3 separate regions of the Homo sapiens genome follow, and regions 2 and 3 are each linked to region 1. A link means that fine-mapping ties the variant in region 1 to the plasma level of a protein whose gene starts in the linked region. Region 1 holds a variant in brackets. A gene starts in each other region. All regions are shown on their reverse strands.

The links. PIP is the chance, under the fine-mapping model, that this variant and not a neighbour inherited with it causes the effect. The UK Biobank Pharma Proteomics Project read protein levels with antibody pairs (Olink). The fine-mapping took linkage between variants from a reference panel, not from the people measured, so its PIPs are less certain.
Region 2: it holds the start of EBI3, and the variant in region 1 is fine-mapped to the plasma level of the EBI3 protein (UK Biobank, PIP 0.99).
Region 3: it holds the start of IL27, and the variant in region 1 is fine-mapped to the plasma level of the IL27 protein (UK Biobank, PIP 0.99).

The regions. Positions count from the first base shown.
Region 1 is chr2:110,848,900-110,857,140 of GRCh38, reverse strand. The region is part of intron 10 of ACOXL (acyl-CoA oxidase like); the gene reads right to left. Among named protein-coding and RNA genes, the nearest start is that of ACOXL, 120 kb to the right of the region's middle. The variant C/A (reference allele first, on the strand shown) is at 3,902.
Region 2 is chr19:4,226,792-4,231,997 of GRCh38, reverse strand. EBI3 (Epstein-Barr virus induced 3) reads right to left here and starts at 2,475. Exons shown (of 5, transcript NM_005755.3): 1 at 2,381-2,475; 2 at 675-807. The coding sequence starts at 2,447. RefSeq lists enhancers at 701-1,202, 2,166-2,255.
Region 3 is chr16:28,502,225-28,507,224 of GRCh38, reverse strand. IL27 (interleukin 27) reads left to right here and starts at 391. Exons shown (of 5, transcript NM_145659.3): 1 at 391-444; 2 at 3,175-3,347; 3 at 3,432-3,530. The coding sequence starts at 414.

The sequences.
Region 1 (8,241 bases):
GCCACTCTGGTCCTTGAGGTGTCACGGAGCCCCTGAAATAACCACCCTGAAACTGCCCCACTTCAGGAATCATTAAGAGAGAAAACAATCCACTTCCTATCTAAAATAGTTAAGCCAGGGTCATAGCTAAAGGCATCCTACCTGATACGAAATAACTGTTTGATGAATGAAGAATGAATAAGACTCCAAAGCACAAAGAATTGTCAGAGAGTCTTAACAGCATCATCTGAGTCTTAGAAAAATCAATGTCCTTGGAATCCCATACAAGAGTTGGGATTTACATTGTATATTCTCTTTGCACACAGGGTCTTCTGGCTTTTACAGTAGGTCCCCCTTCTGTACCGGGGATACATTCCAAAACTCCACTAAATGTTTAAAACCAGGGAGAGTACTGAACCCCACTGCCAACCAGACATATTCCTGTCCATGTCTTCCACCCACAAATTTAATTTCCATCTTAATTAAGTGCTTATCACCCCTGTGGCTGTACCTTTTACAATTTGAGGTGTGACAGCAAAACTAGCACAAATTTCTTTTTCCTTCTTCACAATTTCACAGGTAGAAGACTCCTTCTTTCTGTAGATCTTAGCAACCGCAGCATATGATTGCTTTTCTTTTCTTATGAAGTCGAGAACTTTCACTTTTTTACCTAAAGGAAACACTTTATGGCTTCTCTTTGGCATATCCCAATTGCCAGCATCACGACTCTTGTGTTTTGGGGACATATGAAGTCAAATAAAGATGACTTAAACACAAGCACTGTGACACCATGACAAGCCATCTGATCACTGAGACAGCTACTAAGTGACTAACGGGTGGGTAACCTGGACAAGGGGAGGATTCCATTCAGGATGGGATGGAGCAGGATGGCTTCAGATTTCATCATATTGAGAGGTGAAGCCAGCTGGATTTCCTGGGTCGAGTGGGGACTTGGAGAACTTTTCTGTCTTAGGAGAGGATTGTAAAATGCACCAATTAGCATTCTGTAGCTCGGATTGTAAAATGCACCAATCAGCGCTCTGTAGCTAGCAAGAGGATTGTAAAATGCACCAATCAGTGCTTTGTAAAATGCGCCAATCAACGCTCTGTAAAATGCACCAATCAGCAGAATCCTAAAAGTAGCCAATCACAGGGAGGATTGAAAAAAGGGCATTCTGATAGGACAGAAACAGAACATCAGAGAGGTCAAATAAGGGAATAAAAGCTGGCCACCCCAGCCAGCAGCGGCAACCCGCTGGGGTCCCCTTCCACCCTGTGGAAACTTTGTCCTTTTGCTCTTCACAATAAACCTTGCTACTGCTCACTCTTTGGGTCCAAGCCATCTTTAAGAGCTGTAACACTCACTGCGAAGGTCCGCGGCTTCATTCTTGAAGTCAGAGAGACCACAAACCCACCAGCAGAAACCAACTCCGGACACAACATTACTCAGGATGGCACACAATTTAAAACTAATAAATTGTTTCTGAAATTTTCCATTTAATATTTTCAGAACAAAATTGACCACAGGTAACTGAAACCACAGAAAGTGAAGCATTGGGTAAAGGGAAATTACTGCATTTCACAGTACATATCATATATTTTTATTTCTTTGACAAGCAATCAGGTACATCCTTGTATCTTCTCCTGTAAAGTTGCTTTTTGATTTGTTTGGTGCATTTTCTCAAATCGTATCTCATATTCACAGCTCTGCCCAGGTCAGCAGAGATTCCTAATACACTAGAAAGAACACAGTCTTTATTGAATGGCTATGTGGCCTCGGACAAACTCCTCAACCTCTCTGAGCATTAGTGCCCTTATCTCTAAAACAAAATTAGTAACACCCATTTTAGGGGCTATGACAGTTAAATGAGGAAGCGTTTAAGCAATATGTCATCTATAGCATTGCACACTGATGTCTCCTCCACATCAAGACTAGTTTTAAGGTCAGGAATAACTGTTGCCAACTGGCAGAATCAGTTTTTTTCTTCTACACTTGCTTTCAGGTATACAAAAAAGATGTAAGAAGTATAAAAGATGAAACGATTTTCCTCCATATGAGCAGTTTTGCCTCCAACACCTAATGTTTCCTTTTTTCCTACCTACACTCATCACAGAAGACATGTGATTTAAAAGAAGACTCTCAAAGGTTTCCTTTCAAACAAGACAAGTCCCATGGGGTAGGTCAATTCTCTCAACTGGGACAGTTTCTTAAAGCAAGAGTTGGTAGCTTCCTCCCCAGGGCCATCTGCTGGCCATCAGGTGGGACAGATTCCAGGGAAGGTGGAGGTGGGGTGCTAGGCTGAGCAGAGCAGTAATCTCTGCATCCTTGACCCCATGCCAGAGGACAGGGGCCACTGTCTCCTTCTTGTTTTCAAGGGAGAAAATAGAAACTGGTCCCTCTGCTTGAGAAGGGCCACCTCTCCCTTGGGTTAAGCAAGAGCTTTCCAGATCTCTGCCAGGTGGTGGCCCTCAATGGCCTCTGCCACATCATCCCTGCACCTGAAGTCTCCTTAATGCTCTTCCATAAACCTACTCAGTCATTACTTAAATAGGGAAATTTTCCATGAGCATGGCCTGCCCTTCCAGCCCTGACACTCTCCAAACAGCACTTTATCCCCCTGCTGGTGGAGAGCAAACAAACACCCTCCTTGGGGGCTGGGGCTGAATCAAGGCTCTGAGCCCTAGGGAACCATCCCAGCACCCTGGGTGGTGTTGGTGACACACTTTGGGGAAAAGTCTTCTGCTGGGAGTCAGAGGCCTGAGTTTGAATCCCCAAGTCCACCTGGTGTGGAACCTCCACATCCTGCCTCCTTCATGGAGATGTGGTAGGTTCTGCCTGGACGATCACAAAGAGGTACAGGCAGAAGATGCCTGGAAATTGTACCAACAATGCTAATCATATCCTCTACCCACTGTGTGCCTGCAAATCTCTTCTTCCCCCTCTCTTCTTCCCCTCAGAAGTTGCTGCCAGCCCATGCTGCACAGCCTGAAGGGCAGGGCACACCCTCCCCACACATGCAAACAGACACACACACACATGCACACGCACACAGACATGCACACACATGCCTTGGAGCATCGAGTGCTTCCTTTATCACCCTTAGGTTGTGATAGTACTCCCACCAGGGTCACCAAAGGCAGACATGGTGTGCTTTTACCCTCATTTAGTCCATGGAAGAAGCTCAGTAAGTATCTGTTGAATGAACAAATTAATCTATATTCAATTGAAATTAAAAAAAAAAAAAAAACAAGTGTCCTAGATTTCACTTCGTTTTCCTTTTAAGATTAAAAAAAAGGAGAGGAGAGAGGAAGATGGGGAATAGTACAGTCAAGGTAAAATAATTAGTTCCTTTCCAATTATCTGTTGCACTTTGTAGATTATCAACAAGGCAGGGCCTTCCCCCATGCCTGTAAACCAAACAAGAAAGGGCCTCGGGCTGGCTCTAGAGGGCAACAGTGAGTCCTACTGTGCATTTGTGTCTCTGTATCATTGCACAGACAACCGTAAAAGTGGATTCTGGGGGATCTTCCGTTTTGGAGGGACTACTCTTCTCTCCCACCCATTAGTATGACTAATTGAAAGCTGATTTAATTTCTATGCTTAGACAAACAAACAAACAAATAGAACAAAAATTATCACGGAATATTGAAAGTATTTTATCAACACAAAAACCAACATGCATGTGAGCCTTTTAATCACAGATTTGATTCAGCCTATGCCAACTGAGCACATGATACCTGCCAGGCTCTGAAGATGGAAAGAGGAATCAACACTGTGCTTACCGTCAGGAGCTCTCAGTCGAGGGCAGTTTCTCTACCCAGGCACTTTTCCCATTTTGGGCCAGATAATTCTTTGTTGTGAGCAGCCGAACCAAGCATTTTGGGATGGTTAACAGCATCCCTGGCCTCTCCACCGTAGCTG[C/A]CAGTCAGTAGTAACCTCCCCAAGTTTGGACAACCAAAAATGTCACTGAATGTCTCTGGAGGCAAAATCACCATAGTTTAGAACCACAGGTATAGGAGGAGGAGATTAAGTAAACAGCCACCAAGATGGACCACCCCGCCCGAGGCCCGGCACTCTGGACCCAGCACATGCTGGCAGTGGAGGGGATGCAGACAAAGAAGCTTGTTCTCTGGAGGAGGAACATTGTATGGACCCACGGCTGCTGACATGTGAGTGTATAAATGTGACTCTCCTTCCGCTCCAAGCACCCACATACCATCTTCACCCACCATGGGCTCTAATGAGGGTGGAGATTGCCTTATACAACAGAATAGAGCACTTGGACGAGCAGTCAAGTCTGCCTCATGAAAGACCAGGGAATGGCAGTTTATAGGTGGACTTCTCTGCATGGCACTTGAGGCTCTACCAACCTCAACAGGAAGCAGAATCTGAGTGACAAACCACCTCAGGAAAAAGAAAAAAAAGCTGCCTCATCACAACTCCTTCTGCATTGGCCACAGCGAACAGGGTTTGTGCTGCCCCTCCAGGGGATGTCCCAGCACCCCTACAGGCCCAGTCCCCCATGTGATGTAGAGGCTATAGAATGTTCTTGATTTGTAAGTAGTTTGAGCCACATAAGAGGCCAAAATGTGATTCATACAGCAAAAATTGCCTATAAATGCAGCATCTTGGTGACTGAGGGAGGCAGATTTAGAACTCTCTGTGGCTAGTTTAACAGAGCCCTGGATTACGTCTTGCCAATTTAAGCCGTTCATTCAAACTTGAGAAACGCCCTTCAGGAGGAAGTCGAGAGCCTGAAGCTGGGCTTGCAGGTCAGGCCACAGAATATGAGCCAGGGAGCCAGGGCCCCCACGCGCAGCCTGACCAGAGAGCTCCCCGGTGTCCCTCTCAACAGAAATACGAGCAAGACCTTGGTAGCCCCCCTCCACCACGCCATGAAATGGGTAGGCACCAGCCTCAGGCTTACTGTCAAGCGATCCACCAGGCCAGGGCGACACGGTGCCAGTCAAGGGAATATACAGAAGTCAGCAATGGGCTCTAGCCCTGCAGTAGTTAACCCTGTGCCTCCCCACACCCAGCAGACCTGCCACAAACACCAGCCTGGACAGTCGTCCATAGGGGTCTCCCACTGACAGAGCTGGCCTCCCCTGGCCCTGGCAGAAGGGCAGCTCCTCTCAGTAATCCAGGAAATATGCTGGGGGCTTCCTCCAAGCTCATTCTCTCTCCGTCCTGCTCTCTGCCCTGCACTCAGCGACATTCAACCCAGTGGGAGCTGGAGTGACCCCGGCTATGTTCACCTCTGCGGCCAGGACAGAACATGGAGCGCCTTTCTCACTGGTGAGGTCTGGAAACAGCTGCCCCCCATTTCCCGGATCTCTGGGAGAGGCCCGCGGACCAGAGAGTTTTCCAGGTGGTTGAGATGAGCAATGCCTTCAGGAACATGGCCTCAGGCACCTGTATTTCACGGAGGGATGTCATCCCAGCGCCCTGAGGGCTCTCAGGACCACAGACCAGAGCACTGGTTCTGCTCTGCAGCCACCTTGCAGTGAAAAACAAGGTGGTGCCTCGGGCTGCACCACCCCACCACGAGGGCCTCACTGAAGCACCACACAGTCTAGGGCGTCCAGAGCTGATGGAAGACCTGACTGCACCTGTGTTGTCGTGGAACGCCTTAGAAAGAGGAATGGGCTAAACTGAGTGCAGTCACACAGCTTGCAACCTGCCTTCATTGAAAATGACAATGTGGCTCAATGTGAACTCAAAGGCCTCACCCTGGGCACGTAAAACAAGTAATTCCACATAAAGAACCCCCTCAAACCATACCCAGAAGCACTTGGAAAAAGTGTCAACACGGCCTCAGACACAGTGTTCTCACCTCAAAAAAGTGATCCAGAGACTCCCCTATCTTAACTCTCTTTAATTCAAGTTCACTGAGCATAATTTAATTACAATAAAATTCACCTGATTTAGGTGTCACAGTACTATGAATTTTGGAAAATATATACAGTCGTGTCACCACCACAATCAAGATTTAGAATCTGTCCGTCAACCCCCAAAAATCCCTCACTTTGCTTTCTAGTCAACTCCTCCACCCACCTGGTGAGTACGGGTCTGCTTTCTTCCCTATAGTTTGCTCTTTTCCAGAATGTCATGCAAAAAGAATCACACAGTAAGGGCACTTTTGAGTCTGGCTTTTTCCACTCAGCAGAATGTCTTTTTATTGCTGAGTAGTATCTCACTGTATGGAAGTGACACAGTCTGTTTACCCACTTCCCAATGGAAGGACATTTGGAATTGTCTTCAGTTTGAGGCTATTATGAATGGAGAAGCCATGCATACACGTCTTGGTGTGCACTAACGTTTTCATTTCTCTCCTTTAAGTATCCGGGAGTGTAATCTCTGGGTCTATGGTAAAGGTATGTTTAACATCATAAGAAACTTCCAAAGTGTTTTTCCAAAGTGGCCGTACCATTTCGCCTTCCACCAGCAATGTATCAGAGTTGCAGTTTCTCCACATCCTCATCATCACTTCATATTATCAGCGTGGTTTTTTTGTTTGTGTTTGTGTTGGGAAGTTTTGATGAGGGTCAATTTGATGGTATTGAAGTTTTAAGCCATCCTAACATATATGTAATGGTATCTCATTCTACCTTAATTTGCATTTCCTTAATGACTAATGAGGGTGAGCATCCCTTCATGGTCTTATTTGCCATCTATGCATCTTGTTTGGTGAATAATCAGTTCGAGTATTTTTTGCCCATTTATTACATTGAGTTGTTTCATTTTCTTGTGAAGGGGCTGTAAGAGTTCTACATACTCTGGATACAACTTCTTTATCAGATATGTGTTTTACAAATATTTTGTCCCCATGTGTGGCTTGTCTTTTTATTTCTTTGCAGTGTTTTTCAAAGAGCAGCTGTTTTTAATTTTGATAAAATCCATTTTTGCCAACTTTTTCCTTGACAGTTCATACTTTCTGTGTCTGAAGAAAGTTTTCTCTAAGCCAAGACCACAAAGATTTTCTTCTATGTTTTCTTCCAGAAGGTTTACGGTTTTAGGCTTTACATTTAGGTTCATGATCCATCTTTGTTGCTTGTACATGCTACAAGGTATGTGGTATGGGTTTTTCTTGGTTTTTGAATTTTTATATGGATGTCCAATTGCTCCATTTATTTAAAAGATTATCCTTTCTCCACTGAATCATTTTGGCGCCTTTGTTGAAAATCCATTGATCATTCATGTGGGGTCTGCTCCTGACTTCTTCCTATGTCCCATTGGACTACAAGTCTGTCCTTTTGCCTACATGTCCTATAGTCTGCTCTTGATTACTGCAGCTTTACAGCGATTCTGAAAATGAGGTACTGGAAGTCTTCCAGCTCTGTTCTTTTTCAAAATTGCTTGGCTGGTCTAGTTCTGTTTTTTGTTTGTTTGTTTGTTTGTTTGTTTGTTTTTCTCACTCTGTCACCCAGTCTGGAGTGCAGTAGTGCAATCGCGGCTCACTGCAACCTCCACCTCCCGGGTTCAAGCAATTCTCCTGCCTCAGCCTCTTGAGTAGCTGGGATTACAAGCACGTGCCACCACGCCTGGCTAATTTTTGTACTTTTAGTAGAGACAAGGTTTCACCATGTTGGCCAGGCTGGTCTCGAACTCCCGACCTCAGGTGATCCACCTGCCTCAGCCTCCCAAAGTGCTGGGATTACAGGCGTGAACCACGGCACGCAGCCTAGGTCTTTTGCCTTTCCATAAAATTTTTTGAATTATCTTGCCAATTTCTACACAAAATCTTACTGGGATTTTAATTTGAGCTGTGTTGAATCTCCTGATCAATTTCATGTGGATGTCTTAGTCTTTGAAAGTAAGGGAGGGGTCATTTTCCAGGGGGATATCATTCAAGAAAGACTAACCAGTTCCTCCCAGACCTGTGGACACAGTAGGGCTTTGTTAAATGGCCTTGGCTGTAAGGACATAGAGGGGCACTTGTGGAGGGAACAGGGATGCCGCCTGCCTTTCCCACCTGTTGCCTGAGGCAGACAGGAAGGAGAAGAAATAGAGCTAGGCTCTGACCTGAGAAGCTGCCCTGAGACCCAACAACAGAAAAGAGCATGGAGCATGGTTCCTTGATAGATCTGAAAAGGAGACGATAAAGGGGGGCTGTTGGAGGGTGAGTTCACTGGTCGGCGAGAGACAAGGGAAGTTAATCCTCCATGGGAAATAGCAAAAGCAAGGGGTGGATGTGGCAGGAAGCTCAGCGTGAGGAGACAGCAGCGTGAGGAGTGAGGTCTGAATCCCGTGCTAAAGGT
Region 2 (5,206 bases), not on the chromosome of region 1:
ACCTCGGCCTCCCAAAGTGCTGGGATTACAGGCGTGAGCCACCGCGCCTGGCCATGCCCAGCTAATTTTAAAAATTGTTTTTAGAGACAGGGTCTCACTATTTTGCCCAAGCTGGACTCAAACTCCTGACCTCAAGTGATCCTCCCACATCAGCCTCCCAAAGTACTGGGATTACAGGCATGTGCCACTGTGCCCAACCCAGGAAGTAGTTTTTTTTTTTTTTTTTTGAGATGGAGTCTTGCTCTGTTGCCCAGGCTGGAGTGCAATGGTGCCATCTTGGCTCACTGCAACCTCCGCCTCCTGGGTTCAAGCTATTCTCCTGCCTCAGCCTCCGGAGTAGCTGGGATTACAGGCATGAGCCACTGCACCTGACCAATTTTTAAAATTTTTCGTAGAGACAGTGTCTCACTACGTTGCCCAAGCTGGTCTCAAACTCCTGACCTCAAGCAATCTGCCCACCTCGGCCTCCCAAAGCGCTGGGATTACAGGCATGCACCACTGTGCCTGGCCCAGAAAGTATATTTCTATTGGACGGGGCCGCCCTAGAATTCCATAGGCCTGGGGTTCAGGATGTCGGGGTCTCCAGTTTTCCTGACCCCAGGGCTCTCAGGGCCAGAGTTCTGGGCTCTCCAGGAAGTCCAGTGTCCCTGAGGCCCCCTTCCAGGCTCTCCGACCTGTACGTGGCAATGAAGGACACGGGGCTGGTGGAGTTTGGAGCAGGCGGCAGGGTCCAGGAGCAATCCACGGCGATCGGGTACCGAGAGGCTCGGCATTGCACCCGGGGCAGTGTCAGAGCTGCTGGGGGCCCTGGAGGAAGACAGAAAGAGTGAGCTTCTGGTTTACCCCCAGATTGTCATAGCCCTCCCGTGCGCTGGGCTCCTGCCACGTTGCCAGCCAGCACCAGGTACATGGTAGGTGCCTAATAAAGGCTTTCGGAATAAATAGGTACATGGACAAAAGTCATCTGTCATCTTTTATCCCCACTGCAATCCATCTAGGTGAGGACTACTAGCCCATTTTCCAGATAGGGAAGCTGAGGTTTAAGCATCTACAGAGAGGAACTCGGGTAAGAGAGAGAGATTTTACCGTGTTCTCTCTTTTGTAATTGTTTTTTTTTTTTAAAGAGGGAGTCTCCCTCTGTCGCCTAGGCTGGAGTGCAGTGGCGAGATCTCGGCTCACTGCCACCCCCGCCTCCCGGGTTCAAGCGATTCTTAGCCTCCCGAGTAGCTGGGATTACAGGCATGTACTGCCACGCTTGGCTAATTTTTGTATTTTTAGTAGAGAGGGAGTTTCACCATGTTGGCCAGGCTGGTCTCAAACTCCTGACCTCAGGTGATCCACCTGCCTTGGCCTCCCAAAGTGCTGGAATTACAGGCGTGAGCCACCAAACCCAGCCTATAAATTATTATTATTATTATTATTTTGAGACAAGGTATCCCACTCTGTCACCTAGGCTGGAATGCAGTGGCACAATCATAGCTCACTGCAGCCTCCAATTCCTGGGCTCAAATTATCCTCCCACCTCAGCCTCCCAAGTAGCTGGGACTACAGGCACGTGCCACCACATCTAGCTAATTTTTTAATTTTTTGTACAGATTGGTGGGGTCCGGTTTCACTATGTTGCCCAGGCTGGTCTCGAATTCCTGGCCTCACGATCCTCACGCCCTGGCCTCCCAAAGTGCTGGAATTACAGGCATGAGCCACCATGCCCTGCTGTAACCATTTTGTCTTCAAGGACATGGAGATGTTCTCTAGTGCAAAATGAATGAATGTCGGCCGGGCGCGGTGGCTCACATCTGTCATCCCAGCACTTTGGGAGCCCGAGGTGGGTGGATCACCTGAGGTCAGGAGTTCAAGACCACCCTGGCCAACATGGTAAAACCCTATCTCTACTAAAAATATAAAAAGTAGCCGGGCATGGTGGCGGGCACCTGTAATCCCAACTACTCGGGAGGCTGAGGGAGGAGAATCTCGCTTGAACCCAGGAGATGGAGGTTTCAGTGAGCTGAGATGGTGCCACTGTACTCCAGCCTGGGCGACAGAGTGAGACTCTGTCTCAAAAAACAAAACCAAAAAGAAACCAAAGGAATGAGTGTGACTCAAATTCGCATGTCTGTGTAGCTATGTCTGTGTAGCTCTATGGATACCTCTGAGCTGTGACTGCCAGTCCCTATCACCCACAAGGTGACATCCTTCCACCCCCAATGTGGCACTCTGCCTCTCTGTGCCTCAGTTCCTCCATCTGTACAATGGGAGGGTAACCCCATCCCACCATTGGGCACGGGAGGATGTGATTTCCCACCCCAGACATGATCCGAGGCCAGTCCTCGTGTCATGTCCGTCTGCCTGGGCCCCCCAGTCCCCCAGGGGCCCCACATACCTTTCCTTCCACTGCAGGGCGGGCAGCTGGCCCAGAGGACAAGGGCCAGGAGAAGCTGCGGGGTCATGGCTGCGGCCAGCTCTGCTCTCAGGAGTGGGTGGGAACGTCGTGGGAGACTTGAGAGGGGAGGTGAGGACTTGGGACCTGCCCAGGGGAAAGCCCAGCCCAGGGTCAAGGCCCGCCCCCTCCCCGACTTCCTTCAGGTCTGACTCACTGGTGGGGCTCGTGGGGCCGCTAGGGAGATGAATTAGGGTGTGGAGGAGCCCCAGCCCCCTGGGGAGCACAGGCCACCCCTGCTCGGAAGGCCCCGAGGGTGGGGGCGGGGGAGGAGGCTGTGAAAGGGAGAAGTGGAGACCTGCTGGCTTTTCCCAGCACAGCATGTCCTGCTGGCCTTCCTTCCGCTGCCCTGAAGCGGGGGAAACCCCAGGCAGGCAGGCAGGGGCTCAGGGACATGGAGGGAGACAGAGGCAGAGATGGGGGAGAGAGGCAGAGAGACAGAGAAGACAGAAGGAAGACACAGAGAGACAGGGAGATGACAGAGACAGAGACACAGAGAGAGACACAGATGAGAGAGGCAGAGAGACAGAGACAAGAAGAGGAGGACACAGAGATAGAGGGATACAGAGACAGGGAGATGACAGAGACAGAGACAGAGAGACACAGATGAAAGAGGCAGAGAGACAGAGACGAGAGGAGGAGGACACAGAGATAGACAGGGAGATGACAGAGAGACACAGAGACACAGATGAAAGAGGCAGAGAGAAAGAGACGAGAGGAGGAGGACACAGAGAGAGAGAGACAGAGACAGGGAGATGACAGAGACAGAGACAGAGAGAGACACAGATGAGAGAGGCAGAGAGAAAGACAAGAGGAAGAGGACAAAGAGATAGAGAGACAGGGAGACGACAGAGACAGAGAGAGATACAGATGAGAGAGACAGAGATGAGAGGAGGAGGACACAGAGATAGATAGAGACAGGGAGATGACAGACAGAGAAAGGGGCATGACAGAGACAGAAACACAGAGAGAGACACAGAGATGAGAAAGGCAGAGATGAGAGGAGGAGGACACGGAGATAGACAGGGAGATGACAGAGACAGAGACAGAGACAAAGATGAGAGAGTCAGAGAGACAGATGAGAGGAGGACACAGAGATAGAGGGATAGAGAGACAGGGAGATGACAGAGACAGAGAGAGCTACAGATGAGAGAGGCAGAGAGACAGATGAGAGGAGGACACAGAGATAGAGGGATAGAGAGACAGGGAGATGACAGAGAAAGTGACAGAGATACAGATGAGAGAGGCAGAGAGACAAATGAGAGGAGGACACAGAGATAGAGAGAGACAGAGACAGGGAGATGACAGAGACAGAGAGAGATACAGATGAGAGAGGCAGAGAGACAGAGACGAGAGGAGGAGGACACAGAGATAGAGAGACAGGGAGATGACAGAGACAGAGAAAGGGGGATGACAGAGACAGAAACACAGAGAGAGACAGAGATGAGAGGAGGAGGACACAGAGATAGATAGGGAGATGATAGAGACAGAGAGAGACAGGGGAATGAGAGAGACAGAGACAGAGATGAGAGGAGGAGGACACAGAGACAGAGAGAGACAGGGAGATGATGGAAACAGAAAGAGAAACACAGAGAGCAGACAGACAGAGGAAGAGAGACAGAGGGACAGAGATAAGAGAGGAAGACAGAGATAGGGAAATGAGAGAGACACAGAGACAGAGATAAGGGAGGAAGACAGAGAAAGAGAGACACAGATGGGAAGATGAGAGACAGAGACAGAGAGACAGAGATGAGAGAGTAGGATAGACAGAGATAGAGAGATGGTGGGGCACGGTGGCTCACGGCTGTAATCCCAGCACCTTGGGAGGCCAAGGCAGATGGATCACCTGAGGTTGGGAGTTCGAGACCAGCCTGACCAAAATGGTGAAACCCTGTCTCTACTAAAAATACAAAAATTAGCTGGGCGTGGTGGCAGGCACCTGTAATCCCAGCTACTCTGGAGGCTGAGGAAGGAGAATCACTTAAACCTGGGAGGCAGAGGTTGCAGTGAACCAAGATTACACCACTGCACTCCAGCCTGGGTGACAGAGTGAGACTCCATCTCAAAAAGAACAACAACAACAACAAAAAGACTGATGGGGCAATGACAGAGATGGAGAAAGAGAGACAAAAGAGAGACAGAAAGAAGACAGGAAGACAGAAATAGAGATACGGGGAGATGACAGACACAGAAAGAGAGACAGAGAGATAAGAGAAGACGACAGAGGGCCGGGTGTGGTGGCTCACGCCTCTAATCCCAGCACTTTGGGAGGCTGAGGCGGGCGGGTCACAAGGTCAGAAGTTCGAGACCAGCCTGGCCAATATGGTGAAACCCCGTCTCTACTAAAAATACAAGAATTAGCTGGGCGTTGTGGTGCGCACCTGTAATCCCAGCTACTTGGGACGCTGAGGTGGGAGAATCGCTTAAACCTGGGAGGCGGAGGTTGCAGTGAGAGGAGGTTGCAGTGAGCCGAGGTCACGCCACTGCACTCCAGCCTGGGAGATAGAGTGAGACTCTGTGTCAAAAAAAAAAAAAAAAAAAAAGGCTGAGCGTGGGGGCTCACACCTGTAATCCCAGCACTCTGGGAGGCCGAGGCGGGCGGATCACAAGGTCAGGAGATCAAGACCATCCTGGCTGACATGGTGAAACCCCGTCTCCACTAAAAATGCAAAAAAATTAGCCGGGCGTGGTGGCAGGCGCCTGTAGTCCCAGCTACTCAGGAGGCTGAGGCAGGAGAATGGTGTGAACCCGGGAGGCGGAGCTTGCAGT
Region 3 (5,000 bases), not on the chromosome of region 1:
GCAATCCCCTTACCTGGCTATCCATCTTTGGAAGGACAGTAGACCCTAGGATGATGGTGGCAGAGCCGAGAATCAGGAGGGGGTTTGGGACTCTGGGATCAACCAGTGAATAGGGCTGGATGGCTCACCCAAGCATGGGACATTGAGGACAGGGCTGGACGTGGGAGCTTAGCAGTGAGTCTGGAGCTTGGATGTCCCGAAACCCCAGCTTCCCGTCACCCCCCATCATACCTCCCACCCCCTCCGGGAAGGGAAATTACATTTCCCCATTTTAGCAAGGGGTGGCGAGAGGGAAGAATGAGTGAACACAAAGCTGAAAGTACAAGCAGGACGGAAAGTGAAACCGGGCACAGCCCCCAGTATAAGACCCCCCCTACCCAGGAGATGGCTGACCAAAGAGGCTGGGCCCCGCCATGGGCCAGACGGCAGGCGACCTTGGCTGGCGTGAGTTTGAAGCCAGGGGTGGGGGGCTTGGTTGAGTTTGGGCAGAGAATGGACGAGCTTGGCTGGTGCAGATGGGGGGTCGAGAGCTGAGAGCAGCAACTTGGCCAAGACTGAGGATTCGGCTGGCTGCTGCATGGGAAGGGAGGCTGGCATGACTGGGTGGGGGCCTGGGGCAGTGGGGTGGTGGTCTGACCCAGGGCTGGGCAGAGGATGAGAAGGAGGCCTTGGCTAGTGGGAATGGGGAGGGTTGGACCAGCAATTTGACAAGGACCAGGTCTAGGCAGATAAATGAAGAGTTTGGAGTGAATAAGCAGAAGCCAAACAGCTTGGCTAAGACTGAGAATGGGGCCGGCTGGAGGAAGAGCAGAACGAGGTGCTGGCACAAGTGGAGCACTGGGACCAAGATGTCAGCAGCCTCACTGGGTCAAAGGTCTTTAGTTTGATGTTGGAAAGAGGTCCAATCTGCGGCTGGTGGCTGCAGAACTCAGGGGCTAGAACCAGAGCAGTAGGCAGTGGAGAAGGTAACATGCCACGTAGGGCAGGTAGGGACCAAAGGCTGGAGGATGGAGACAGAGCCTTCAAAGGCCAGAGCCAATGACCCAGGATCAGCTGCAGAGGGTAAGGAGGGGGTCTGGGGTCTCCAGAGGTCAGGTTGGAGATGGCACAGCTCACTTACGGTTGGGCTTGATCCACCAGGGCCTGGGGGCACCCACCCTGTCCCCAACATTGAGCTAGGAAGAACCCCACTCTGCCTTAAGTCTCCAGGATGTCAGAGGGTCCGAGTGGCCCCAAAACCAGGGAGTCTGAATGCCAGAGATCTTACGTTAGGCATCGCCCACCACATCTGCAAGCCCACGAGGGAGGTAGATGTCCCTAGAAGCTCCCCTTCACCTTTATCAGGGGACATTTCGAAGAGCAGAGCCCAGGGGTTAGAGATTGAGAGAGGACAGGGAAGAGGCAGGGAGAGAAGGGAGAGCAGGATGGACTTCGGGCCAGTTTTGGTTTGTGTTTCGAGGAGAATTGTGTAACTCTTGTGCTTGCTAGATTTCCTCTCCCTGAGGGGGAAATTGATGAATGCTGCCCTCTTCCTAGAGCGCCCATCCGCTGCCCCTCTTTCCAGGAAAACACAGGTCAGGAAGCACACTCGGAATTCAGCCATTCTGGGCTGGGCGCAGTGGCTGATGTCTGTAATCCCAGCACTTTGGGAGGCCAAGGCAGGCGGATCACCTGAGGTCAGGAGTTGGAGACCAGCCTGGCCAACACGGCAAAACCCCTCTCTACTAAATATAATAAAAATTAGCCAGGCGTGGTGGCTACTCAGGAGGCTGAGGCAGGAGAATTGCTTTAACCTGGGAGGTGAAGGTTGCAGTGAGTCGAGATCGCGCCACTGCACTGCAGCCTGGGTGACAGAGTGAGAATCTGTCTTAAAAAAAAAAAAGCTCCCATACTGTGGATTCGCCCCAGGCAGGTTACCCTGCTAGGATCCACCTGCCGTGGTGGAAACTGGACAAACCTGTCCTTTTGACTCCCTGGAATAGAGCCTCTGGCATTGCCAGCCCATCCCTGGGGACCTCATGGCCAGTTCAAGCCATCAGAGCCGCTTGGCTGAGCCCAAAGAATCCTTGCCAGAACATGGTGTGCCCACTCCTGGGGCAGATGGCTGCCTCCCTCTGCATTCTCTGGGGAAAACCCATGGGCTCTGCATTTGGAAAAACCTGGAATCCAGTCCTGGCTTCCCACCTTCTGGCTATTTGACCTTGGGCAAGTCAACCTCACTGAGCCTCACCTGCAAATTGGGGAGAACAATAGCACTGAGGCTGCCACACGTGGTTGTGCAGGTTGCTCACTGAAAAAGGCATTTGGCCAAGGGAGTTTATGGGGGTCAAAATCCAGTCTCTGTCCCGGCACAGTGGCTCATGCCTGTGATCCCAGCAATTTGGGAGGCTGAGGCGGGAAGATCTCTTGAGGCCAGGAGTTCAAGACCAGCCTGGGCAACATAGTGAGACCCTGTCTCTACAAAAAAATAGAAACAGTTAGGCACAGTGGTGTGTCCCTGTGATCCCAGCTACTTGGGAGGCTGAGGCGAGAGGATCACTTGAGCCTAGGAGTTCAAGGCTACAGTGAGCTGTGATCACACCACTACACTCCAGGCTGGGTGATAGAACAGAACTCTGTTTCAAAAAAAAAAAAAAAGGATCAGGCTTCTGGTCTTTTTGCAAAAGTGGGCACACCATGCGGAGATGCCATATGGGGGCCGTGCTGGCTGCATCGTGGGGTTTTGTTTTGTTTTGTTTTGTTTTGTTTTTTTGAGACAGAGTCTGGCTCTGTCGCCCAGGCTGGAGCACAGTGGTGTTAGCTCACTGCAGCCTCTGCCTCCCAGGTTCAAGCGATTCTCCTGCCTCAACCTCCTGAGTAGCTGGGATTACAGGCATGCACCACCACGCCCAACTAATTTTTGTATTTTTAGTAGAGACAGGGTTTCGCCATGTTGGCCAGGCTGGTCTTGAACTCCTGGCCTCAGGTGATCCGCCCGCCTCGGTCTCCTAAATTGTTGGGATTACAGGTGTGAGTCACCGCACCCAGCCTCCATTGTGGTTTTGAGGAGGCAGAGGAATGATGCTGGTCAAAGTGCCTGCACCGTGCTCACAGCTAGCACAGGCTCAGAAAAGGCATGTTCCCTTCCTTCTCAAGCTCTCTCCCTGTCTTGCCACCCTCTTCCCATCTCTCCAGGGCTCAGCCTGTTGCTGCTTCCCTTGCTCCTGGTTCAAGCTGGTGTCTGGGGATTCCCAAGGCCCCCAGGGAGGCCCCAGCTGAGCCTGCAGGAGCTGCGGAGGGAGTTCACAGTCAGCCTGCATCTCGCCAGGAAGCTGCTCTCCGAGGTTCGGGGCCAGGCCCACCGCTTTGTAAGTCCCCCTAATGCAGCTGGCGCTGGAGATGGGCAGACCCCCAATCCCTTCTGGCCCCCACTAACAGACCTTGCCCCCCAGGCGGAATCTCACCTGCCAGGAGTGAACCTGTACCTCCTGCCCCTGGGAGAGCAGCTCCCTGATGTTTCCCTGACCTTCCAGGCCTGGCGCCGCCTCTCTGTGAGTGAGGGCTGGTGGAGTGGGGCGGGAAGCTTGTGATAGGCTGGGGCCAGGGTGCAAGATGAGGCTGGAGATTGAGCTGGAGATGCATTGGGGATAGAACCTGGATAAGGCTGAATATGTCATTGGACATAGAGATGAAAGACAGGCATGGTGACTTACACCTATAAACCCAGCACTTTGGGAGGCCCAGGTGGAAGGACTGCTTGAGGCCAGGAGTTCAAGACCAGTCTGGGCAACATAGTGAAACTTTGTCTCTACAAAAAAAAATTTAAGAGTTAGCCAGGCATGGTGGTGTACACCTTTGGTCCCAGCTACTCAGGAGGCTGACATGGGAGGATTGCTTGAGCTCAGGAGTTGGAGGCTGCAGTGAGTTATGATCCTGGACTCCAGGATGGAGAACAGAGGGAAACCCTGTCTCAGAAAAATAAATAAACTGCCAGGCGTGGTGGCTCATGCCTGTAATCCCAGCACGTTGGGAGGCTGAGGAGCACGGATCACCTGAGGTCAAGAGTTCAAGACCAGCCTGGCCAACATGGCGAAACCCCATCTCTACTAAAAAATACAAAAATTAGCTGAGCGCAGTGGCTCACGACTGTAATCCCAGCACTGTGGGAGGCTGATGTGGGTGGATCACCTGAGGTCAGGAGTTCGAGACCAGCCTGACCAACATGAAGAAACCCCACCTCTACTAAAAATACCAAATTAGCCGGGTATGGTGCTGTGCGCCTGTAATCCCAGCTACTCGGGAGGCTGAGGCAGGAGAATTACTTGAACCCAGGAGGTGGAGGTTGCAGTGAGATGAGATCGCGCCACTGCACTCCAGCCTGGGCAACAGAGCGAGACTCCATCTCAAAACAAACCAACAATAAAGATGAAGCTGGAATAAGGAAGTGGGGTTGGGAAGAGGTAAGAGTGGAGCTAGGCATGGAACGCGGCAGGCATGGGACTGGAATGAGGCTGGAGACAGATCACAGCAGCATGGAGGGTGGGTGGAGGTGGCACTGGGGGTGAGAATGCGGATAGTTAGAGATGAGAAGGTGATGATGAGGGTGAACGTTAAGCATGGGATGGAGAAGGGATGGGGATTGCTGGTGGGGAAGGGAATGGAATAGGGTTAGGAATGAGGTTGGAGATGGGATGGAAAGATGGAAAGAGTGAGTCTGGGCACATGGAGGAAGGATGGAGTTGGGGTTAGGAATGGGAATGAGGCTGAAGATGGGATGGAAACACATGGGCAGGAGGTATGATGGGATGGTGGAGGAGGGAAGGGAACAGGGCTGTGGATGGAGAGTGCTTCAGGGACTGAGAGGGGGTGGGTTAGAGAAGATCATTGGCATAGGAGTGAAAGGGAGGCTGGAAAAGGAGATGGGACAAATGTCCCAGACAGTGGAGATGGAAGGAATGGGGACACAGCTGGGCTGAGGTGGGGGAAGAGCTACAGGGATGGACTGGAGGCTGGAGCGTGGA